Linked DNA regions of Homo sapiens: all the other regions are linked to region 5. Evidence: fine-mapped expression QTL. A gene starts in region 5. Each other region holds a variant in brackets. All regions are shown on one strand. Distances are between the middles of the regions.

Region 1 (5,106 bases), 220 kb after region 5:
TGTCCATTTATTTGTAAGTGTAAAATATGTGTGTTTGTTTCAGCAGCACTTAAAAAAGCCAGTGTCTGGTTACACATTTCAATTTTAATTAATTGACATAAAAATGCTACCGCCAGTGCCAGCTGCATCCTATTTAATTAAAAAGGTACTATATTTGTACATTATTTTTTAATGTTAAAAGGGCTTTTTTAAGTTTACAGTACACATACCGAGTGACTTTAGGGATGCTTTTGTGTTGAAATGTTACTATAGTGGCTGCAGGCAGCAACCCAGAAACACTTTAGAAGCTTTTTTTCCTTGGGAAAAATTCAAGCACTTCTTCCCTCCACCCTCACTCCAACCACCCCAATGGGGGTAATTCACATTTCTTAGAACAAATTCTGCCCTTTTTTGGTCTAGGGATTAAAATTTTGTTTTTCTTTCTTTCTTTTTTTTTTTTTTTCACTGAACCCTTAATTTGCACTGGGTCATGTGTTTGATTTGTGATTTCAAGACCAAAGCAAAGTCTTACTACTACTGTGGAACCATGTACTAGTTCCTGGGAATTAAAATAGCGTGGTTCTCTTTGTAGCACAAACATTGCTGGAATTTGCAGTCTTTTCAATGCAGCCACATTTTTATCCATTTCAGTTGTCTCACAAATTTTAACCCATATCAGAGTTCCAGAACAGGTACCACAGCTTTGGTTTTAGATTAGTGGAATAACATTCAGCCCAGAACTGAGAAACTCAACAGATTAACTATCGTTTGCTCTTTAGACGGTCTCACTGCCTCTCACTTGCCAGAGCCCTTTCAAAATGAGCAGAGAAGTCCACACCATTAGGGACCATCTGTGATAAATTCAGAAGGGAGGAGATGTGTGTACAGCTTTAAGGATTCCCTCAATTCCGAGGAAAGGGACTGGCCCAGAATCCAGGTTAATACATGGAAACACGAAGCATTAGCAAAAGTAATAATTATACCTATGGTATTTGAAAGAACAATAATAAAAGACACTTCTTCCAAACCTTGAATTTGTTGTTTTTAGAAAACGAATGCATTTAAAAATATTTTCTATGTGAGAATTTTTTAGATGTGTGTTTACTTCATGTTTACAAATAACTGTTTGCTTTTTAATGCAGTACTTTGAAATATATCAGCCAAAACCATAACTTACAATAATTTCTTAGGTATTCTGAATAAAATTCCATTTCTTTTGGATATGCTTTACCATTCTTAGGTTTCTGTGGAACAAAAATATTTGTAGCATTTTGTGTAAATACAAGCTTTCATTTTTATTTTTTCCAATTGCTATTGCCCAAGAATTGCTTTCCATGCACATATTGTAAAAATTCCGCTTTGTGCCACAGGTCATGATTGTGGATGAGTTTACTCTTAACTTCAAAGGGACTATTTGTATTGTATGTTGCAACTGTAAATTGAATTATTTGGCATTTTTCTCATGATTGTAATATTAATTTGAAGTTTGAATTTAATTTTCAATAAAATGGCTTTTTTGGTTTTGTTATGTGTGTACCTTGGGTCTTTTCTTGTTCACGGTTTCTCCCTAGTCTGATGTCTACTCCTGCTTACACCTGGGCACTGTTTGGTCTTAGGACTTGCCAGGGCTAGTTAAGAGAAGAGATGCTATATTACTGGGGAGAAGAAAAAAAATCTTGGTAAACGGTGTCTTCTTGTTTTGTCCTGTTCCTAGCGAGGGGTGGGCAAAGAATCTAGCAGTGAACTCACTTCCTTACTAGCTTGTGTCTGAAGGAAGGAGTGCTCACCTCATCCTTGAGTAAGGCCATTTATTCCAACTGGGGGACCTATCAGGCGTATAGATGCAGTCTCGATGGCTTCATGATTCTAATCTCTGAGAACATGAACAGGGCCCCGCAAGTGAACCTCTGGCTATCAACAGAAGATCTCAGGCAGCCCAGATATAGGCTAGTCTGTTTTCCTTTCCACATCTCTTTTGGGTTCTTAAAAATAAAGTCAACCAAAGCCCAAGGATGAGTAAAAACGGACCTTGGCCTGGAGGGCTATAGCCTCAGAAGAATTCTCCTAGTGAACATAACTATAGTTTGGAGATTTTTTTTTCCCGTGGCCATTGTTTATTTTTGGTAAGTCCCCCCCCTTGTGATAAGGTTGAAGACCTGGGGTAGAAAGGTTGCTTTCTCTGTGTCCTATGCTTTCTGAATGCTTGGGCTCACCACAATTCTAAAATAGGGACCCAGGAAAACATGGTGCAGAGAAGGTCAGCCAGTGGCCAAGCTGACCCACATCACAGGGAGAGTTAGAGACCTTGAAGATCTGCTCATTCTTAACCCTTTGGCACTATTTTCTAAGAAATCTTGGAAATAGTTAAATTCCAAGAATAGGAAATGTCCTGAAAGCACTTGGGTGAGCTTAAGCCAGGGAACTTGTCTGCAACTCTGAGGATGTAGATTTATTTATTTAAAAAAAAATCAAACATCTGTGTGACTTTAAAGGGCATTCACAAGGGAGGTGGTCACAGTGGCTTGCTTTCTGTCTCCAGTTTTCTCTATCAGGATGGTCTAGGGCAAATCCCTTTATTCCTCTGTGTCTCAGTTTCTTGGTTTATGAAAAGGCATTGGGCTAGATCTTGGCACTATTGACATTTCAGACTGGGTAATTCTTTTTGTGTGTGTGTGTCAGGGATGCTCTCCTGTGTATTGTAGGATGTTTAGCA[G/A]CATTCCTAGCCTCTACCCACTAAAAGTTAGTAGCACCTCCCTAGTTAGGACAATCAAAAATGTCTCCAGATGTTGCCAAATGGTCCCTGGGTGGCAAGATCACCACCGATTGAGAACCACTTAGCTAGAGGCTTTATTGACAGAACTGATATGAGAATACATTGCTTATTAAATCAGAGTAGCCAGGCAGAGGCTGAGGGACTTCCCAGTGATGGCTACACCTCAACCTTTTCCATCCCTTCACTTGATTTGGATGTATCATGAGGGCTGCTGTTGGCTTTTTCGTCTGCACCTCTTCACTCCTCTCTGCAACATGGGCTGTGCAGCCAGTGAACAGCCCAGCTGTGGGGCTTTGTTAAGCCTGGATTGGTTGGCCATATTTATCATGGCCTGTTTCTCACTGAAACGGCAGGCGGAAGAAGAAAGCAATTTCTGCAGTGTTTTTGACCCCTGGTGTCCCCTATCCCCCAAATATTTAATCATCAGGCATTTCTGCAAGAGTGGGTGTTTCCTGTTAACTCAATCCCAGCCGGGACTGGCCCAATAAACACCTCAGGTCTCTGTCATAGAGTTTATTTGGCTGGGAAATGGGTATTGCCATGTAAACAGGAAGGCCCCTGAAGTTATTATCTACAGACGCAGTGGAAGAGCCGCATGTTTATATTTATGGGACTTGAAAACAGTATGAAAGGCAAGGGAGGATGTCAGGGAAGCCCTCATTGGCAGTCAGTGAGAGCAGGTCCTACAGCTCTTTATTAGTTAATTTTTCATTCTCTCTGGAAATGGTTGGTAAACAATAATGACCTAGCCAAGAGCCACTGCAGAAATGGAGGTACTGGCTTGCCTGTACCTAGATTACCAGGTTAACAATAAGAAATGCTATCAGTTGGCCTCTCTGTCCTAACTATTCGAAAATTATTTTAGAGATCAGTCCTAGGAAGCAACAATTTGGAGGTATCTAAAAAGGATGCTTATGAAACAGTGTCACCATCTCTAAGTTCTTCTGGGGAAGTGGAGGACAACTCAACTGACTGCTCCAGTTGTAGTGAGTGTGGGCCAGCTCACCTGTGAAAATCCCAAGCAAATTCTCATGCATTCACTCCTTAGTCAGTTTCTGTGAGGCTGGAAAGGACATCTTCATGCAAGAGTTCATAACACCTGAGCTGTCCAGGTATTGGTACTGGGAATCAGGCTTACACCCTAGGCCTATGCACCCCAGGTATACTCCAAATTGCTCCCAACCCTTCTCGGCTCTTCCATTGTCTCTCTCCTCTGGCCCGGAAAAGGTGCTAAGAAAGGCCAGGTAGGAACCAGTATGTGGAGAGCTGATACTCTTGATTTAAACTCTGGGTTCTGAGCAAAGGCAAGGGAGTCTTTCCTTCCTCACCACCATTGCTGTGGACCCTGAGAAGCCTCTTTGTGTCTTCTTAGGGGCTTCTCAGCGGTAACTACTCAATCAGGAGGCCTTGGAAAGGAAATTTTAAAAAGTTATGAATCAAAACTTACCAAGGAAAAGGATCCAGTGAAGACGCAAAGGGTAATACACCAGGGATGTGTGTGTGTGGGCGTGTGTGTGGTGTATGTGTGTGTGTGTGTGGGGTGTATGTATGTGTGTGTATATGTGTCTGTGGTGCATGTGTGTATGTGTATTTATGTGTGTGGTGCATGTGTGTATGTGTGTGGTGTGTATGTGCACGTATATGTATATGTGTGTGTATATGTGTATACGGGTGTGTGGTGTGTGTCTATGTGTGTATGTGTGCATGTGTGGTGTGTGTATGTGTGTATATGTGTGTGGTGTGTGTGTGGTGTGTATGTGTGTGGTGTGTGTGTGCATGTGTATGTGTGTGTGTGGTGTGTGTATGTGTGTGTGGTGTGTATGTGTGGTGTGTGTGTGCATGTGTATGTGTGTGTATATGTGTGTGGTGTGTGTGCATGTGTATGTATGTGCATGTGTGTGTATATGTGTGGTGCATGTGTATGTGTCTGTGTGTGGTGTGGTGTATGTGTGTATGTGTGTATATGTGTATGCACACACAGGTATGTGTGTGCCTGAAGGGAGGGAAGGAGGAGGGTGAAGTTTGGAAAGGGTACCTGAACAGCCACCCACTCAGAGAAAGATGGGGCTCACCACCCCTGCACATGTACTCAGGAGACACAGTGTTTCTTGGCCTCAGTTTTTTATTTCTGCAAATTCTTCAAAAAAAAAAAAAAGTACTGCCTTTATCCCACAAGTGATAAAGAAACAATTACTTGTCTTCAAATAGGTTACTGGGACAAGGGACACTGGATGCTCCTTGATATGTCAATTAAGGGAGCAGGGAGAAGCTAACATTTAAGGAGTTTTTAGTAATTTTTGTAAAGCTATTATTCAAAAGTTTGTGACTCAATCCAGCCCTGCTATTCAGATATG
Region 2 (5,109 bases), 130 kb after region 5:
GCTAATTTATAAATGTCTCCTTTCATTCCTTTCTAAATTGGGACAAATTGCTCCAAAAAGTCTATCAGAAGATTATGTATGTATGTAGGTATTTATCTATGTATGTGTGTGTGTATGTACTTTTGTTACAGCAATGAGGTCCTCCAGCTGAACCATAGCTGAGTTCTATTCCTACTTCTATTCCTGGTGCTATTTGGTCAGTTCTTAGAATGGATTTTGATAGTTTTCACTTCAGGAAAACACAGTCTCAGGCCGGGCATGCTGGCTCATGCCTGTAATCCCAGTACTTTGGGAGGCTGAGGCAGGTGGATCACTTGAGGTCAGGAGTTCGAGACCAGCCTTGCCAACATAGTGAAACCCCGTCTCTACTAAAAATATAAAAATTTGCTGGGCATGGTGGCAGGCGACTGTAGTCCCAACTACTTAGGAGGTTGAGGCAGGAGAATCGCTTGAACCTGGGAGGTGGAGGCTGCAGTGAGCCGAGATCGTGCCATTGCACTCCAGCCTGGGCGACAGTGAGACTTTGGGAAGAAAAAAAAGAAAAGAAAACATAGTCTCACCGTTCTCCTCCACATAAATGTGGCCAGGCTGTTGGAAAGCTCGTGGTTTAGAAATTATTTAAAACAACTGCGTTAGAAAATATTATTTGTACAATAGCATCTTAAATCCCAAGACCTCTATACAACTTACAAAGTAACTGTAGAAATTCAGGGAAATTCTTCTTTTTTAAGTTTTATTTCATTTTTAATTGACAAATAATTATATTCCAGTAAAATTCTAATGTTGATATTTAGATGCTTTTGTTCTTGGTGAGCTTGGTAATTAAAAGAAGGTAATTTTAGGAAAGAAAATCAGCTTTAATAACGTATCCATATTGTTTATTTCTACGTTAATTGAGCAAACATTTGCACCATGGCTGCTCTGTCCAGGGCTTTTGAGAATGCTAAGTGCTGCTGAAATAACTTTGAGAGTCTAACTTGAAAGGGCCTCCAGCAGAATTGAGTATAAACCCGAGATTAGCACCCGTAAAGGTCCATAAAGGGCTTAATTTGTAGTCCTTTTATTTATCTTTAGCACAGTGTGAAGTGTGATGGACTAGGGTGGAAGGTGAAGGAGCAAGGTAAAGAGAGACTCCCGTGACAATCAGCAATACGCCTTTAAGTTCATTGGGCTTTGCTTATCTTTACTAAGCCATCTTTTCTTCTTAGAGAAACTGCAATTATTATTGGTCACAAGAAATGAATATTCTCATGTACCTTACAGGATTTGTTTATCCTGTTAGTCTTTAATAGCATTGTAGATAAATGCCCTGCCATTGTAGAGAGGTAATCATACTTTTAGTTTTTGATAATTTAGATTATGTGGAAAAAATTCTGTTTTGGTGAAAATACGACATTGTTAGGACTAGTAACAAAAGCATATATATGATGCTCAGTGCTGCCAATTATTTCTTTTTACATTTGAAATAACATTTACTTAATTTAATTAGTATACAGGAAGATCTGTTGTAAACATTTCAGAAAATTCAGAAAGCATTGAAAAAAAGGTAAAAAGTCATTTGAAACTCAACACCAAAGATAATCTCAGTTAATATTTTGACATAATTCCTTTTACTACTTTTTCCTAAATGTATTTGTATGTATGAATATATATTCACATATACTTTTTATTTTATACATTTTTGCATTTTCTAAACTGATTTTATTTTTTAATTATTCAAAGGAATTGACTGACCTATACCCTGAGTCTTAATCGCAAAATGGTAAATCCTGTTCGATTAAAAATGAACATTTTGAAAATTGATTTACAAAAATTGGTATAAAATCTATTCCTTTAAAAACATTACAGCCCACTGCATTATTTTCTGATATGGTTGCCTGCCTCAGAAGACAACTCATATGAAGTGTACATTCTTCTCCTTGCTTTTCTTCTTGTCTCTTTTTTCCTTTTATCTCTGTTCTGTTTTATAGGTGCTCACAAGATGTTTGGTATGCTAATCGAATAAGAATATGCTATGTTGGGCACTCTAAGCATGCTTTGAGGGTCTCTTGGGTTTCCTCTTCAGACTTCCTCAAGGCTCCATCTCTTTATGTCATCTTTTGGAGTGGCTTATGTATACCTTAGCAAAGGATGCTCAGACCTGCCCTATGGGCTGGGTTTTCAGAAAATAATATATTCTGTATTTGCATAGCATACAAAGTTTGTAATAACATTGATGACTTCACAACAACTCTGTAAAGCAGACAGAGAAGATGCCCTTTTTCAAGTGATAAAGAAGGCTGGAGAAATTAGAGAACTTGCCCAGGATCACACATCTGTGTTGAACATTTCATATTTGAAATTGGTTAGTATGATTCAAATCAAATTCAAGTTGAAAAAAGGTTCCTGCTGTGAATTTGAAGAAAAATGTGTAAGATGTCACTATTTTACCACATCCAAAATAATTTCAGATTACTCTAACTAGAAGCTAGCCAATTTTTATATGCATTTTTTTGGGAGGAGGGGGCAAAAGTAAGTAGGAATCAGATACATGTGAAGAAAAAAAAATTCAAATCAATTTTGGGGGTTACATAGTTGTAGTTTTTGTTCTGAATTGCTCTGGTGGAGGATCAAAGAAAAGC[A/G]GAATTAATGGAGAAAAAGAGATATGTAGAAAAAAAGAAAACATTGCCTTTTTAGTGTAGCAGCTTGTTCATTACTAAGGATGGAAGGGAAAGGTAATGCTTAACCTTTCCCAACAGAAGAAGGCTGCAAGTCAGGGCAGGGATGGCTGAATCAGCAGGTAAGGTAGTTCTTTTTTCCTCCTGGACCATCTCCATAGGAGATAGGGTGACTGGAGAAGGGAAGGTGGAAGGAAGATCCCATGTCAGACAATGCTTTTTCCTATTTTTGGAATTCTAGAAACATGAAAGATGAGAGGATGTAGATTTGAAGACTCTAAAAATCCTGAAAAGTATAACATTTTCAGTTCATAAGTATATCTGGAAAAGAAGAAGCATTCTTCTTGGCACATGCTTTGCCTTAAGCTACTAAAAGTCTACCTGAAAATGCAATTTGAATTATTATTATTTTTTATTCAACGCTTGTAAAAACTAAAGCAGCCTTTCTAGTGTGACTTTTGACATCAAGGAGGCTAAGTGAAGTAGAGAAAAGTAGGAGACTAGGTTGGGGAGGCTGGCCCATAGAACAAAGTAGAAGAAATAAGCCAGGGCAATGGCAGCTTGGCTGATGAGAGCCTGGGACTGAGTGGAAAAACATAGAGGCCCAGTCAGCCATTGTGGTTAAAAGCTTTGTGAAAAGTGTGCAGAGGTGGCTCTAAAATGCATTTGTCTGGTTAATATGACAAGGAAGCTCACAGGCATATGAAGGTTTAACAGGCAATGAAGGCTCTCTGACAGTCTATATGGGATCTAATCAAATGCAATGATAAATTCTGGGATAGGATTTTTTTTTTTTTTTTGACAGAGTTTCACTCTTGTTGCCTAGCCTGGAGGCTGGAGTGCAATGGCGCGATCTCAGCTCACTGCAGCCTCCGCCTCCTGGGTTCAAGAGATTCTCCTGCCTCAGCCTCCTGAGTAGCTGGGATTACAGGTGCCTGCCACCATGCCTGGCTAATTTTTGTATTTTTAGTAGGGACGGGGTTTCCCCATGTTGGTCAGGCTGGTCTCAAACTCCCGACCTCAGGTGATCCACCCACCTCAGCCTCCCAAAGTGCTGGGATTACAGGCATGAGCCACCGTGCCCGGCTTGGGGTAGGAAATTAAAAACAAAAACAGTGCCAACTTTTAGGCAATGAAGAGTATTTGTTAAGCATCTTACATTCTTGATGAAACTACCTAGAGTCTGTGTTTCACTTTTGTAACATTGAGAAATCAGATAGAAATATTGGGTTACTAAGGAATCAGCTGTGACAATTTTGATAAACTATACATTTATTCCGTGTCACCAATGTGTTAACTGGCAAATACATTATGATCTCCTTCAGTTTCTAATCCTTTTTGCCAAGTAAATAAATTAAATCAACAATAAAATTTTGATTATTTTTCCTCTCTGGTATAAGACATTTCAGTAAAAATATATGAAAAATAAACTGCGAATGGAATCTTCCAGTTAGCTGAATGGACCTTTCAAGGTTCATATATTCATTCTACATAAAACTCATATGTAATAATCTGTGGCAGGAGGGAAAAAGTGGCTCTAAGTATGATCTGGAAACATACAGAACCTCTTGACTCCTTCAAATTCCTGAGGTGCTCTTTTGTTAATGTCTCTGGTTTCAGAGGGCAAATGTTATGGATGCAAAACCTCAAGGTCCACAATCTGTCCTCTTGGAAAAAACTTGCCAACAGAAATGCGTAGCTGTATTCTCTGTTTCTAAAACCTGACAGTAACCTGAAGCTTTGAGCCACTTGCCTTCTTCCTTCCCCTCTCCTGATTAATTTCCTTTTCCCTGTGTGTATGTGACATTAAGCAGCCCTTATTTCTGTCTGGATTTCTTGACATCCCATATTCTCTCTTTAGTCTCAACCCTTACTCTTCTTTCAGTTGAATTTACTTTAGCTTGGGTTCTTGCCATAAAGAACCCCAGAGCTTGACATGTTTATAGTTATTTGTACACATTCTTATGGTCACATACATCATGATCTTCCATTTTCAGTATCAAAAACCGTATTCCCACAGAGCAGAGATATAACAGTTAATTTTCTTTGTAAAAATCATAGAATTACCTAAAAATAACTGAATATACTTGAATTGCTGAATATACTTGAAATTCTGATCCTGCTTTTCTCTACGTTGCTCACATCAACCAGGCAGCCACAGTATTTACTGAGCACCTGCTGTGTGCCTACAAGTATGCCAGCTACACACAAGTTTGGAATATAAGGCACAAAGTTTTACTTTGGAAGAATTAAAATATGGTCCTGGAGATAGTGCTATAATTAATAAACAATTAGATGGCACTGTGTATTCAATTCGGCTATCACATGTTCATTCTTTCAACAAGTGTTTATTGAGCCCTGCCATATGACAGACATTCTTCTATGTGTTAGGAATATAGCCTTTAACAAAATGTACAAAATTGTTTCCCTCTTGGAACTTGTGTTCTATTGA
Region 3 (5,109 bases), 200 kb after region 5:
CAGCTACTGGGGAGGCTGAGGCAGGAGAATTGTGTGAATCCAGGAGGCAGAGGTTGCAGTGAGCCTAGCTTGTGCCACTGCACTCCAGCCTGGGTGACAGAGGGAGACTCTGTCTCAAAAAAAAAAAAGATGCACTTCAATGGAAAGCATCATGCATGCAGGTGTGACCAGGCTGGCTTTGCAGGCAATCATTAGATGATCACACTGGGCAGTGCGTGGCAACAGCTCTGAAGTGAAGAAACACTTAGGCAAGGGGCTATCAGTTCCTTCAGGCTGGCGAGCTAATATCCAGCAGTCAAGAAAAGTCAGTCCAGGTGAGAAACCAGCACTTGTCCTCCCTGTGGAGTCAGTACCCAAACAGCTTCTTCAGAGGACTGAGAAATTGGGGCTTATCTTAAATAGCAAGGAACTTGAATTGATAAGGGATGAGGAACATGTTCTAAGCAGAATCTCATAACCACAAGCCAAGCTTATAGGAGAAAGCTTTAAACAGGTAACCCTGTTGGCATCACAGTTGTAGTAAGCTATCACTCCATTCTCAGATCCTTCAACCATGCCCTAAAAGGAGATTCCTCCTCATGAAACTCTAAATTTGGGGCTCTGGAAGTTAGCTTCAAGATCTTATGCAGATATGAACACTTTTTCTTATATTTCCTGTTTAAAATGTAATGAAGTTCCATTTCTCCATGGACACAGCTTTCTGTTCTTTCTGGAATCCTGAAGTTCAGAGGTGTGTGTACTGAAAACTATTACAGCCATTTGTTAGTTTGTTTTAAAGGAAAGGAGAGTAGTAAAATCAGGACCTGGAGAGCACATTTCCCAGTGACCAAACCTACTCAAAATGTATTTGATGGATTTATTTTGAGTTTTGGAAGCTCAAGGACTCCATAGAAGATACAGTTCAAAGGGTGTCAGCATGGGGAATCCAGAATAATTCTCAGAGCTCCAAAAACTTCATAGATTGGAGCTTCGGATGATGGGTTGGCTGTTTCTTTGGCTGTCAAACCTAGTTTTTAACCTTTCTCCCTGGTTAAAAACTAGGTTTGACAGCCCATTGAGGGAAACGGGAAGAACAAAGAGATTGGTACAAGTACAATCTGTGAGTTAGGCTTATTGCATTCCCTTTCATTTAGAAGGGTATAGTAAAAGAGAATGGAGGTGAAAAAATGTAATGTGAATTTTCTCACTAGAGTCAGAAGCAGCAGATAACAGATAACAGCCCCTGGAAAAAAACAGTCACTTTAAAAAGGAATAAAATTGGTAGGGTAGTTTATTGAAAAGAGGCGTGCTTTCTCCCCATGAGCCAAGAGGTCTGAATCCTGACAATACACATGTGTGTAATGAATTCCCCTCCTCTTCAGATGAGTGGCTGGACTTGCTTATACTAATGCCCTCCCCCTCCAGTCTTAAGGCATTGGTACTGATCTTTTTCACTCCAACAACACCGTGGTATAATAGTGAAAATCACCGCACAGGTGGGTTAGGAGATAGGTAACTAGGAGATAGATTAAAACTAGGGAACTGGAGATGTGGTTATCTTTCAGCCCATTTGCAGACTTTGCAAGCTAGTATTTGAGGTGTCAGCTTTGGACTTGCAAAGCCACAGCTTCTGCAGATGGCTAAGTTGCCTTCCTCCTGCACTTTACCACATTCCCTGGTACCTAAGAGAGAAAAACTATTTCTCCAAAGTGAACCCCTCCCAGGGGTCTTCCTACCACCATTTTAATAAAAAGGTTAAATCTCAAACTGCAAATTATAGAATGTCTAGTTAGAAGTTTGAAAACAATCTTTGTAAAAGTTCATTAAAATCAAATAAGCAGTACCACTTTAGGTTATATAGAAGGCGATTTGGAGGTAAATCCCTTCAGTTATCTAAAAATGTGGCAAGTAAGTTCCAACAAGTGTAACAAGCAGGTTAACACTGAGGGAAACGGGAAGAACAAAGAGATTGGTACAAGTACAATCTGTGAGTTAGGCTTATTGCATTCCCCCACAGTATCCTATTGCATATGAAGAGGTCCATGGTCCAGTGCAGTTAGATGACAGTGGACTCTGGCAGCTTATCAAGCTGCTGTCTCCAGAGGATGCTGCTGGTCATCCAAGAGAAGTGGAAACTCGGGCATGTGCAACAGAATATGTACAGACAAACTGAGGACTCCCCCAGGAAGGAGGAGGCATCTTAGGAGGGCACCTTGAACTCTTCTGCTCTGCTTCAGGAACTCCAGAGAGTGAGGGAATTAAAAAGGAGCAGGACTATTGGGTCCTCTGTAACAGCTCTTTTCTGATGGCGGAAAGTACTTAAAGCTCACAGATAAAGAACATCATGTTAGAACCTCAGACAAATTAAGTGCAGGGGAAGATGGGAAGAATTTTAGCAACTAACTCCAAAGGTGAGAGTAAAAATAAATGCATAGCAAGACTTAATATTAATAATACTTAGATAGTGCTTTACATCTATAGAAAGCACTTTCATAGACATTATTTCATTTAATCATTACAACGCATTGAAGTATCAATACTACTATACTCAGTAGTTTGCCAGCAGGAAATGAGGGCTCAGAGACATTTAGAGATTTGTTCAGGGTCATCAAGTGAAAGGGATAGAGAGTGAAAACTCAATTCCAGGTCTTTTAGCTCCACATAATATGCTTTTCCCTACTCTGCGTTGCTGTAGGAGTCTCCATATCAGAATCGGACTTTGCTACAAAGGCCTGTTGGCTATCATCCTAAGAGGAATATTTGTTATCACTGATCTTTCCAGCCCAAACCTGGATAACACCATTAATCCTTACTAAGTAGCCAAAATTCATGGTTTGATGCAGATCAGAGAACCCAAAATAAAGTAAAATGGACCAAATCCCTAACAAGAAATAATAGTGGAAAAATCTACCTCCCAATTTTGTAAACATAAATTTTATTCTAGAAATTAAAAATGTACACATTAATGAAATCTTAAAACCTCAAAATAGGCCAGGCACGGTGGCTCACACCTGTAATC[C/A]CAGCACTTTGGGAGGCCGAGGTGGGCAGATCACAAGGTCAAGAGATCGAGACCATCCTGGCCAACATGGTGAAACCGCATCTCTACTAAAAATACAAAAATTAGCCAGGCGTGGTGGTGCGCACCTGTAGTCCCAGCTACTTGGGAGGCTGAGGCCGGAGAATCGCTTGAACCCAGGAGACAGAGGCTGTGGTGAGCCGAGATGGCGCCACTGCACTCCAGTCTGGCAACAGGGTGAGATTCTGTCTAAAAAAAAAACAAAACTCAAAATATATGGTTTTATATGTGGGGCGAGGAAATTTAAAGCTACTTAAATTTTGCACGATATATTCTACCTTGCAAGAGCTGGAAAGGTTGATACAAAAAATCATTTATTTAACTTTGGATAATTCAGATCAAACAATTTGCTTAAATAATCTAGAACAGAAAAGAAAGAGAAATAGCTCACGTGGTATCTCCCATCGAATATGGGAGCCTGAAGTGTTAGTTTTAACCTCCTTTACTGCTAAATTTAAGGATGAAAGACTTTCTTAAAAAGTTAGTAGTGTTCCCATTTTCTTTTGGCCTGTGTTGGGAACTGTTGTTAACAATTACATTTTTTTAGTTTTTAGAAAAGATCCTAAATTTTTGAATTGACATTTTGTACATAGAAAACCTAGATTTTTTTTTTTTTTTTTTTTTTTTTGCACATTGAATGTATAGCTTTATTACCTCATTTTGAAAACTAGTACTGCTTTTTAATGAATGGGGACCATTCTTTGCAGGAACAGTATTTCTAGTAGAATTTTTGAAGGTATTTTTGGAATTCTCAGACTTGTCCAATATGTAGCAGGATCAGAATTTTAGAGCAGGGAAACCCACAGAGATGATTTCATCCCCGCCCCTCTTTTTACTGACAAGGAATGTGTGGGTCAGGGAGGGAAAGGGACTCCACCGTGATCACCCTGTGAGGCAGGGACAGCACTGTGGCCAGAACCCACATCTCCAGTTGCTAGTCCAACACTCTAGAATTATTTTATCCTGCTACTCTTCTCATAGGCTACTGACATTGTATTAAAATTGCTATCCATGGCCATTGTGACCTGAAGAAGAAGAAAAAAAATGAACCACCAATGACCTCTTCCTCCTCTGCACCTTTCCTCTTTTCACCCGAAAATTAAGTCCTTATGAAAAGATTAAATAGATGTGGCCCTGCATCTGTGGCAGCACTGTCTCTCCTGACCAGTCACTGACTGTTTTGGTCCACATCTGGAGTGGACTCAGTGGACATGATTCTCAGGCTGAGAAAAATAGGACTTGGATTTTGTCCTTGGCAGGCAGAGAACTTCCACTGTTTGAGGAGCTACTACTGGACTACTGTGTGTTTGTCCCACGTCCCACAGCTAGCTAAGCAGACCGGGCTCTTTTTTTTTTTTTTTTTTTTCACGGTCATCAAAACAAGTAGCTCCTCTCAGACACCTTAATACATAATTAGGTGTGTCTGTTTACACTTGGGAGACAGAGGGCTTCATGTCCCAGAGAAATACAAGACGTCTGGGAACAGCCACAAACAGATGTTGAAAATGTCCATTTGTGGCGAGTTTATTACTATAGCACCAGGAATAAACATTGAAGATGAAACCCCTCTGAAGGGGTGTGTGTGTGTGTGTGTGTGTGTTGAGAGGGGAATGTTATCGAACAGAGTAGAAAGTGAAAGGAGGTTCTATTTTTTAAAAAATTTGCTCTAGTATTTGTTTATCTCCTGCAACAAGGAAAATTTCGCTATTTGGCTTTGGCTGTTTGAAGGCTTTTGCCAAATGCTTAACAATCTGTAGGGTTTGATTTCTTTCAGAAAGACCACTTTGAGAACAAGGCTCTATGTAACTAAGATGTGTTTGTTTTTGTTTAAATCACTCAGAAGAGAAATCATCTCTTGTCCATTGTTAAAAAGAGAGTTTTCAATCAAAGGAAAATTCTACATATTCTAAAATATACAAACAGCTCTTTGAAACTGATGCCAAATCAAACTCTAAAAGGGACGTTTTTCTTGCAGAAGTTTTGAGTTAATTCTGTGTGCAGGGCTTGAGTGGAAAAACGCTGAGACTGTCAGAGGAACGAGTTACTACAACACT
Region 4 (5,109 bases), 230 kb after region 5:
TTGAATACGATTCTCAACCACACCTTCTGGAGCACAAACTGTGAGCTCAGGTTGTGCAGGGAAAGATTGGTGAACCAACCGTCATTCCTCGTGGGCATGAGAGGGAGAGAAGGATCCAAGGAGAAAGCAAGTTTGAACTTCAGCAAGGAGTTAAGTGGTTAATAGGAACTCAGTTTTTTTTTTTATTGGCTAATAAAACCTCTCAGCGTTTTTCATATTATATGGTCCCTTCAGGCTCCTAGCCCAATGGCTTAAAAAAAGGGAAAGACAAAAACAACAACAAAAAGCTGGAGCCTAAATACCAATGCAGTCCCAGTCTTGTTTACTTTTTCATTTCCGCAGTTGTAAAAAAAAAAAAAAAAATTCCTCTGGTAGTTCAACTTTATCATAGGAATTGCAGGAACGGACCGGTGTTTGAACAACTCCAGTCATTCCTGCCTCCCAGTGAAAGGAAAAAATATGCTCTGCCTGTGTGTGCCTGTTTCAGAAAAAAAGTTGACCACGCTGCAAGTGATGGATGCATCAGGAAATCTTAAAATGAAAGCAGGGGTGGAAGGAGGGAGCGCAGATATTGAACTGAAACACATCTCTGGAATCCTGAATGCAAATGATCTCTGTCCTTTTATTGCCAGTGGTGCTGTTCTCCCAACAGAGCAGGATGTTCTTGTTTTTAATAATAGCCAGGCCAGATGCTAAATTCGCCTCAGCAACATGCTGTATAAGTGAGAAGGCAAACAGCTGATTCCTGTTAAGACGAACACCAGGAGAATAAGCCAGAAAGTATGAGAATTCTCTGGAGGTTTTTGCTTTGTAAACCCCTGTTTGGCAGAAAGATCACAGAATCTGAACTGAAAACACAGTGTGTCCCCTGCACCCGTTCCTCGGCGGAGCTGCTTGCTGGGGGCCTTTAAGCCTCTCGCCTTCGCCATCCAGCCCTTTTCTAAGCTGTCCAGAAGACGAGCTTACAGGTTTCCCAAGAGGGAAAGTCGGAAGCCCTGAGTCCTTTGACTTTTAATGACTGTAGAAAAATACTCATCAATAGGAGGATTTTTTTTTTTACTTGTTCCTTGCAGTAAAAAATAGCGAAATCCTGAACACGAGCCAGTATTTTTAAATGGCATCTTTGTTCCATCTTTTTCACTACCTTCTTCCCCCTGTCAGAGTCCATCAAATCCCTCAGATACTATTCCTTTCAGAATAAGCCACACATGCAAGATGCTGCTTTCTTCTTTCCCAGGGAGCTGCCAGAGCCTGTGTGGTGTTCTGTGCGGCTGGGCTGACCAGATCAGACAGTGACCAGGCTGCACGCCGCTGCTAGCTCATGCCACCTCCAAATGCTGCCCTGAAGGCCCTTCCTGGAGAGCAGGGGTACCCTGTGGAAGGGGTCTGCAGAGTGTTGTCTTCCAGTCATTCCTGGGGGCTTTGCTTCCAAGGCCTGCAGGAAAGTGAGCGAGAGAAGAAGGGGATGTTAGGAGGAGGTTGAGAAGCTCGCCCCAAAAATAAGTTCCCCAAAGACCCCTTTCATTACCTTTCCTGTTCATATCATCCTCCTAAACCCTCATACTTTCTCTCTCCAATTGCCACATCCTCCCCTGAAATGCAGAAAGTGCACATTATCCTTTCTATTTTTTCCTCCCTAGCTGTCCTTGAAGTTCACTTGGCCTTGATCTCACTAGTATGAACATCCTGGGGGGAAAGGAATGGGAGCCAAAGATGATTTTCCTCCTTCCCTACTTAGGATGGCACTGAAGCCCATTGTTTTAATGTCTTTTTGAGGAAAATTCAGATTTGGTACCAGTAGCATGATCACATATGTACCTGGCACTTTTCTTAATGTTTCACGTGCCTTATCTTAATCTTCCCAGCAACTTATGAAGAAGTTAGTACTGTGTTTATCCCCATTTTACTGATAGGAAAACTGAGGTTCAGACTTGTCCAAGGTTATACAGCTATTAAGACTCAAGTCTAGATCTGCTTGATACCAGAGACTATGTTCCTAAGCTCAAACTTTGGGCACAATCTCTGTATCATCTGTATAATGGAGGTTATGAGAAGTAAATGAATTAATGAGATCTAAAAATGCCCAGCA[G/A]AGTGTGTGGCACATAATAGATGTAAACTAGATGGTACGTTTTATTATTGTTGATAATAATTAAGATTGTTTTTAAAAGCATAAATAAAATGTTCAATTAGTTGGAATCACAATAGAGCTGAAGCCAGAAGTGGAAGATTTTTAAAAAATGCTATTTTAACATTTTTAAAAATGTTGCTCTTTGACAGAGGTTTTTTTCCTATATATTTTATAAACTATTTTTCTACTGAACATTAAGGTTCAGGCTGTTACAACAGCCATTAGTCCATTTCATTAAGGTTAAGTTTGGCAATTGGCTTGCTATGGGCTTCTTCCCTAGGGAACCCGGAGATATCGTATCACGTAAACCATGAATGGAATACATCAACACCTTCAGAACAAGAATGTTGACCTTACCCCCATCCCAATCCTCAATCTGTAGTCTCTTCCAAGGTTTTCCATGTAGGTATGTTGTGTTTTGTGTGAACAATGTCACTGAAAATGTTATTATTGCACTTAATTTGGCAGCATTGGCTTCATCTAACTAGAAAGAGACCCGAGCCAAGAAATTCCTGTCAACTTCAACCCTTACCTTTCTATGAATGGCTCTGGGGTCCTCCTTGCAATCTGACAAAGGGGCACTACCCAGTTCCCTCACATCTGAAGTGGAACCCCTGATCTGGGCAAGGCTTTGTGTTGGTGTGCAGAAGCCTGGAGGAGCCCAGGGATGGGGCACGACCGTTTCTTGCCCTAAATGATTTAAATCACTTTGAATGAATAGGTAGGCTTCTCTCCAAGTATCTTAAAGTATCTTGCAGACTATTTTCTTAAATCTATATGGAAAAAAATATTATATTTTACTGAAAGTCCAGATAATAGAAATTATCTCTCTCCCTCTCACACTCTCTCCCTTCTTTTCTTTCTTCTCTTTGAAAATATTTATTGAACAGCTACTATAGGCAGACCAATATGTTGGAAGGCTTGCCGTCATTAAGAAGCGTATTGGAAAGCATGTCTGTTCAACTTAATCCATTTCAGTAAAAGAGGTTTTTGTCATGCCATTCTTTATTTTAAGCAAATTCATGAATTCTTGAGATTGCAAAAAACAGATATTAAAAGTAGTAATTAGTTTATAGAGAGAATTTAGACAGTTTTGATTTCTGTTTATAGCCAGTTTCATTTTCCATTTCTCATTTCCTAAAGCAAACACTCAAATATTTGTAAGGTACTTGGCATCTATATTTAGTCACACAAGACTTTCATTCCCACCACATATATGGGTGGTTTGGTATTCTAAAAGTGGGTGATTTTCATACAGTCAAAGAGGGAAAATCTACTCTTCCATTTTCTCCACCCTGTTGTAGCAGCCATGAAGCCAACTCTCCCTGAAGGGGTTGAGCAGTGTATTGAAAGGGGGACATCAGAAAGTGGCAAAAAGTTCTGGGTTCCAGATCCTTAACCCCTACTAACTAGATGCATGACCTTGAACAAGCCACTTAACCTCTCTTGACCTTCTCTTTAACTTGGGACAATAATATATTGCCAGCCAGATGGTCTGCTGAAGGACCATGGAGCTCTTACCTATAGATTTGGAATGGCTTTTGGAATGGAGAAATTATGGGGAGTTTTAAAAGACTAGAGTCTGTCTAACATTAAGAAAGAGAATGGGGTCCATTGTTTACTGCAGAACTGGCAAAATGGTCATTTTGTAGAGGATGGGGAAATGGAATCCCAGAGAGGTCAAATCACTTTTGAAGGATCACCCCATAGACAGATGATTGGAAGTCAAGGGTCAGGACATCTATTTCAAGCAGTTTCTATACTCACTCACCGTAAGAGATATTTCCTTCCTTCATAATAGTAGCACCTTCTGCATTATATTTTCATTAACTACTTTTTTAATGTCCTAGTTTTCATGAACCTATTTTCATTTGTTATAAATTTAGGCAAACTGATTTATTAAAACTTTCTTATATAAATTAATTTCCAACATGCTGATCCCATACCATGCTCCAGCTAACCTTATTAATTAAAGACCTGTTATATGTTACTTTATTTAAAACATAGATGAAGTTAGCATACCAGGCCTGACTTAGAGGATGAGAAATCCAGTCTAGGAGCATCAGTGCCATTTCTTCCTGGAGAAAGCTGATATATCTGTTGGCAACATGCTTCAAGTTGATTTCCGTTTAGTGGACAAGAGGGATTTTCTCACCCAGACCCTTGCCATCAATGCTAAGGGTAGTGGCTTGGAAAGGTCTTTCTATTTGCTGTTTCAAGCTTTGGCCTCTAGAGATGGGGCCATAGTCTTGACTTCATTAACATGATGTCCTAGCCACCTAAACAAATCAAAGCATAACAGCTATTCTTGAAAAAGGGCTTGTCATCTCAATTGTACCTTTTATCTGCTTGCTATCTAAGTTACCTATAACCAATATCCCTTTGTATTAGTCCATTTTCACACTGCTGACAAAGACATACCCAAGACTGGGCAATCTACAAAAGAAAGAGGTCTAATTGGACTCACAGTTCCACGTGGCTGGGGAGGCCTCACAATCATGGTGGAAGGCAAGGAGGAGCAAATCATATCTTACATGGTTGGTGGCAGGCAAAGAGAGAGCTTGTGCAGGGGAACTCCTCTTTTTAAAACCATCAGATCTCATGAGACTTATTCACTATCATGAGAACAGCATGGGAAAGATTTTCCCCTATGATTCAATTACCTTCCACCGGATCCCTCCCACAACACGTGGGAATTCAAAATGAGATTTGGGTGGAGACACAGCCAAACCATATCACCCTTCAATTTAAAAAGTAGAAGGGGAAAACCATTCTGATGGGGTGATGATAGAGCACACAGGTATTAAGTATAGTGTTATAAGACTTATAACATAGTTCATCTGACCCCTGTTTAATGATAGACACAGCCATTATTGTGCCAAGTGATTCTCAGACATAAGTGTCAAGTCATTTACAGGGCAGAGGAAGGTGGAAAGCTAAGAGGAGGAGGAATTTGTGGCTTCACCCCATCCCTTGCTTGA
Region 5 (5,109 bases):
TGCTAATGTAGAAACTATAAGCTTATTTGAAAAGAAGAAAACCATTTGCTGATCATACTACAGCAGCTACCTACATATTTTCAATTAAGTGATTCTGCTATTATAGGTACACATGAAACCATGTTTGGAAATCCCACAAGCTATAAGGACAAAACCCTCCTTTTGTTTACTTTGGATACTAATTAGAGATACAGATAATATGGATACGACTTATTTATAAAAGAGAAAAAATAATTTTTCTCTCCTTCACATGAATAACTGCATGTTAAATGAACGCTTTTACCTTTCAATGTAAAATCTGTTTACACATACAATAAGGCATGATAAATCCATAGTTAAAATAAAACACCAAAATGTATTTCTGGTTTTTTATCACTAAAAGTTTATTCTGAAAAGGTTCTGGACATTTGAAAAATAAAGGACTAGAATCATTCCCATACCCTACCAGTGTATTTTGGGAAAATCAAATTTTCTGTAAAGAAACTTATGAACATATTTGTACAGTTATTGTGATCTAATATGAACCAAAAGCAGATAATGAATAGCACTAGGAAGAACACAGGGATATTTTAGTTCTAACACCCTCCTGTCTCCCTAGCCCTTACCTCCCTGCACATTCCAAATAATCTTTTGTAATTCACTGTCTCCGCCCACCCCATTTACTTTATGCCACTCCTAGTTACTGTCACACTAGGAAGAAGTCTAACATGCAGATTTAGAGTGGCATGGATAAATGGCAAAAAAATGCCTAGAAAATTGGTCTGTTCGCCTTTATAATTTTGGTTGAAAAATACTCCATCGCTCCCAACTGATGAAAACAGGAAGCTCTATTCATAAATATAAAATTCACTGCCTATGATATATAATCATCCTAATAAGAAAATGAGTTCTATACATACTTGTCCAAAGGGGCAAAAAAGGAGATAGTTTCCCAAAGATGTTTCCAATTTTCTTCTGAATCAGAATTAGCAAATCGAGACGACTAACATACTCTGTCTGTGGGCATTATTCCTTACTACACACAGCATTTTGTAATTTATTTCAAAGCTTCCATTAGAAACAAAAAAATACATAGCTTCTGTTAACCCACTCTATTCTAAGCTCATAGAATCAAATACTGAACAATCTACATTATAACATAAGCATTTTACTTTATAGAAGATCTGCTATCAGAAACTCTATTAATGTCTAAACTACTTAAAGAACTATATAAACTGAATACACTTCAATGAAAGACAAAAAATATTACAATCATAAAGAAAACTAAGATTCATCCAATAAACTATATTACAATCCCTGTCATTCATTTTTTTAAGATCTTCAAACTAGGCATGAGATAATGGTATACATGAAACATTACATTTAATCTTTATTGTAAAGGCCGCCATCTAATAGATTGATAATAAACTAGACAGACGTGATTTAAAATTTGTAAAAGAATGCCCAGACTAACACTTTCATGACAGCCAATTATAGTCAAGCCTAGCAAGCAGTTTGCAACCAGACCTTAAGGTAAACTTTTTTTTTTTTTACAATGAGTTACAGATTCACAAGTTTAAGAAGACAAGAAAAAGGAAAACAGAAGGAATCCAGCCACCCAGCAAATATGAAGCAGACCCCAGAATGTGATACAGTCCAAAGATGTGAATTATTGTATATCATCACTGTTGTTCAGAATTTCACACAGACTCTTGAGCCAATTTTGTTCATTTTTCCACAGACACAATAATGAACTAAAAAGAGGAGGCAAAAAGGCAGAGGTTGAGCGGGGAGTAGAAAGGAAAGCCCTTAACTGCAGAGCTCTGCTCTACAAATGCTTAACCTTACAGGAGTTTGGGCTCCTTCAGCATTTGTATTCTATCCAAATCCTCATGAGTCACAAAAATTAAAAAGCTATATCCTTCTGGATGCCAGGAAAGGCCTTACCACAAGCCTTTTGTGAGAGAAAGAGAGAGAGAGAAAGAGCAAGGGGGAAAAGCCACAGTGGTAGGCAGTCCCACTTTACTTAAGAGTACTGTGAGGTCACAAACCACATGATTCTGCCTCTCCAGTAATAGTGCTTGCAAAAAAAAGGAGTTTTAAAGCTTTTGCTTTTTTGGATTGTGTGAATGCTTCATTCGCCTCACAAACAACCACAGAACCACAAGTGCGGTGCAAACTTTCTCCAGGAGGACAGCAAGAAGTCTCTGGTTTTTAAATGGTTAATCTCCGCAGGTCACTACCAGCCACCGAGACCAACAGAGTCAGTGAGTGCTCTCTAACCACAGTCTATGCAGTAATAGTAGGTCCTTCAAATATTTGCTCATTCTCTTTTTGTTTTGTTTCTTTGCTTTTCACATGTTACCAGCTACATAATTTCTTGACAGAAAAAAATAAATATAAAGTCTATGTACTCCAGGCATACTGTAAAACTAAAACAAGGTTTGGGTATGGTTTGTATTTTCAGTTTAAGGCTGCAAGCAGTATTTACAACAGAGGGTACAAGTTCTATCTGAAAAAAAAAGGAGGGACTATGGCATCAAACAGCCTCTTCAGCACAGTGACACCATGTCAGCAAAACTTCTTTTGGGGTAAGTGTTACCATTTTTAAAATCCTGTAAGATATGAACCTGTTAAACATAAAGGTATGATTCTTTGATAAACTGCTAGCTTTTCCAAATAGCATATTAAAGATCCTAATTATGCTATCTTGTTGCATTAAGAATTGAAAAATGAAATTTCTGTATATATTTGCATTTGGTATCTGTAATGTATCTAATTTTCAAAGTAATGACTTGAAATATACAAAATTAAATTATCTCACATTGATCAAAATGTTTTCTAGAGTTATAGAGGTGAGGATATGAAAACAGTAAAAGAAACAGTTTAATACTCTCATTAACCCTCACCAGAAGAAAAGTCAGATCCTAAATTAATCAAAGCATTATAAATTATTGACTCCGGCAGCTCCCAATATTTGAGCAAACTTCAAAAAGGAAGCAATTTTACAAAATAACAGACCACAGAATTATCTCAACATTATGGTCTACCATGTATAACACAGAAATAAACCTGTAGTACAGTTAACATTTTAACCAGCTCAACTAAAAGAAATCTACTTATAAATTCAAACTGTATCCTATCTAAATAAGTTTGTTTCTAAACAACTTTATATAAGTATACATTCAGCTGAAATAAAATTATGATAAGCACATCACAGCCATTTTTAAAAGATCTTTATAGTTGCCCAGGATATTAAAAAGTTCATGGAAGTATTTTAAAACTTACATGCAACTGCATTTTTCTATGTAATTTTAATTTTACATCTACACACTGTTATCCATAGACCTTGTTATAAACACACTGAAACACTGAAACGTCTAAGATTCTTTTAATCACATTCTTGGACCTACCAAAATGAATAACTGCTGTTTAGTCTCATGAAAAATAAAGCTCCATAAGGATACCCTGTATGATTTTTAAAAGCCACAACTATTAAACCATGCTGGACTTTAAAAGAAGTAGGCATAATCTTGTCCCTTAATATTTAATTTCAAGTTACTGTTGATACAGATATGTAAATGACTTTAACATTCATCAGCTGATGTGTTATTATAGCAAAATATCTAAACACACTTACAAGATTCTCTTTATGATCTCCAACATGTTCCAACTACAAGGCAAGTTTTCAAAAATTTTTCTTATATCCATTAAAATAAACCTTCTTGCTGTGTACATCTATATTAACTCTGCTTTTAACTTACAACTAATGACTGGAGTTTCCTTTACTCCTCCTACTTCACACATTTTAACTGGATACTACTAGAGGATCAGTCTCAGTTTAGGTCAAACAGAAATAATTAAACCTGAAGGGAGAAAAAATGGTTTCTCTTACAGGGTGAGGAAATGTACTTTGTATTTTACAAAAAAAAATGTAAAATTGCTTTAGTGACTCCCTCAATAGCTGTAAGTGGGCCCCCTCAGTTATAATATATACAATATAATAATCACAGATTAATTTAAAATTTTAATGATGGGTACCAAGTATTACTCTAAAAACTTCTATATTAAGGAAGCAGGACATAAACACAGCTAGACTACATTACAACACATAGCATAATTACAGCTTATACATCGAAAGTTTTGTTACTACTACCCAAGAGATAAAAGGAAAAAGAATAGTTAAAACTACTGTTACACAGAGGGATAACTTGAAACAGGGATAACAGAGATATCAGGGAGGGATAACAGAGGCAGTTAAGTTACTCTTTCACGTTATCACTCTGTTTAACTATTTATTTTAAACACATTTTAAAAACCAGATCAGGAACAACACAAGTTTCAAAAAATTCTTCAGTATTAGAAGTAAAGTTATCATGAAGAATATGTTAAAATTCTCACAAAGAATATATTAAACTGCTTCTTATTCTATCATAACAGGGATCTTATACTTCTGTAACATTCTTAATAACTATTCAAAATTTCCAAAACTTGACAGGATTCTAAGCAAGGCATGGTAGTGAACCTTTTTTTTTTCCAACATTACAACCAGTTCTTCCTCTTTTGAAAAGTGGGCTGCACCTTCCCTCCCCGCCAGCCCCCAAACAGTATCTTGAAGCCTGAATAGAGAACTTAACATCAACCCACTACCTCAGACTAATTACAGGTGAGTAGTGGACATCATGTATATGTTATCACATTGCAAACATTTCCCCATTCTATAATCTATGCAAAGCCTAAAACCTCACTTCAGGCTTTAGATTTTTATATAATGATTATCACCACCACCTAATGAAATGTCTTAAGTATGTGCCCCAATTTTGTAAAATAGTTAAAAAGAAAGTTTAGGATTTTCCTAGGTGAGGTACAAAGCACACATTAACAACTGCTTCACCTCAAATACAATGAGTGGTGTGTGTGTGTGTGTGTGTGTGCGCGCGCGCGCGCACATGCTAGAGAAAGAGTATGTCTGTGTCCTTGATCTCTCAGCATACTTCACTTTGAGTTAATCAAAAATTTTCAATCTGTACTACTCAAAATCTGTCCATCATTTATCATAAATATAGCTTGCTGAAAATCACAGATGTGACTCATAGAGTATCTTAAAATTAATGACTCATGAAAATATAT

The links.
Region 1: its variant is fine-mapped to the expression of RUNX2 in blood mononuclear cells (TOPMed, PIP above 0.99). The same link has a PIP of 0.9 or more in whole blood.
Region 2: its variant is fine-mapped to the expression of RUNX2 in putamen (GTEx, PIP 0.99).
Region 3: its variant is fine-mapped to the expression of RUNX2 in whole blood (INTERVAL, PIP above 0.99).
Region 4: its variant is fine-mapped to the expression of RUNX2 in neutrophils (CEDAR, PIP 0.91).

What each region holds. Positions count from the first base shown.
Region 1 is chr6:45,549,576-45,554,681 of GRCh38, forward strand. RUNX2 (RUNX family transcription factor 2) reads left to right here. Exons shown (of 9, transcript NM_001024630.4): 9 at 1-1,507. Among named protein-coding and RNA genes, the nearest start is that of RUNX2-AS1, 25 kb to the right of the region's middle. The variant G/A (reference allele first, on the strand shown) is at 2,693.
Region 2 is chr6:45,454,582-45,459,690 of GRCh38, forward strand. The region is part of intron 5 of RUNX2 (RUNX family transcription factor 2); the gene reads left to right. Among named protein-coding and RNA genes, the nearest start is that of SUPT3H, 79 kb to the left of the region's middle. The variant A/G (reference allele first, on the strand shown) is at 2,622.
Region 3 is chr6:45,528,505-45,533,613 of GRCh38, forward strand. The region is part of intron 7 of RUNX2 (RUNX family transcription factor 2); the gene reads left to right. Among named protein-coding and RNA genes, the nearest start is that of RUNX2-AS1, 46 kb to the right of the region's middle. The variant C/A (reference allele first, on the strand shown) is at 2,999.
Region 4 is chr6:45,555,724-45,560,832 of GRCh38, forward strand. No RefSeq gene overlaps it. Among named protein-coding and RNA genes, the nearest start is that of RUNX2-AS1, 19 kb to the right of the region's middle. The variant G/A (reference allele first, on the strand shown) is at 2,090.
Region 5 is chr6:45,326,215-45,331,323 of GRCh38, forward strand. It overlaps RUNX2 (RUNX family transcription factor 2), which reads left to right and starts at 2,116. Exons shown (of 9, transcript NM_001024630.4): 1 at 2,116-2,246; 2 at 2,447-2,570. The coding sequence starts at 2,513. The region is part of intron 2 of SUPT3H (SPT3 homolog, SAGA and STAGA complex component); the gene reads right to left. RefSeq lists a cis regulatory region at 834-840, a promoter at 1,798-2,438 and an enhancer at 1,845-1,885.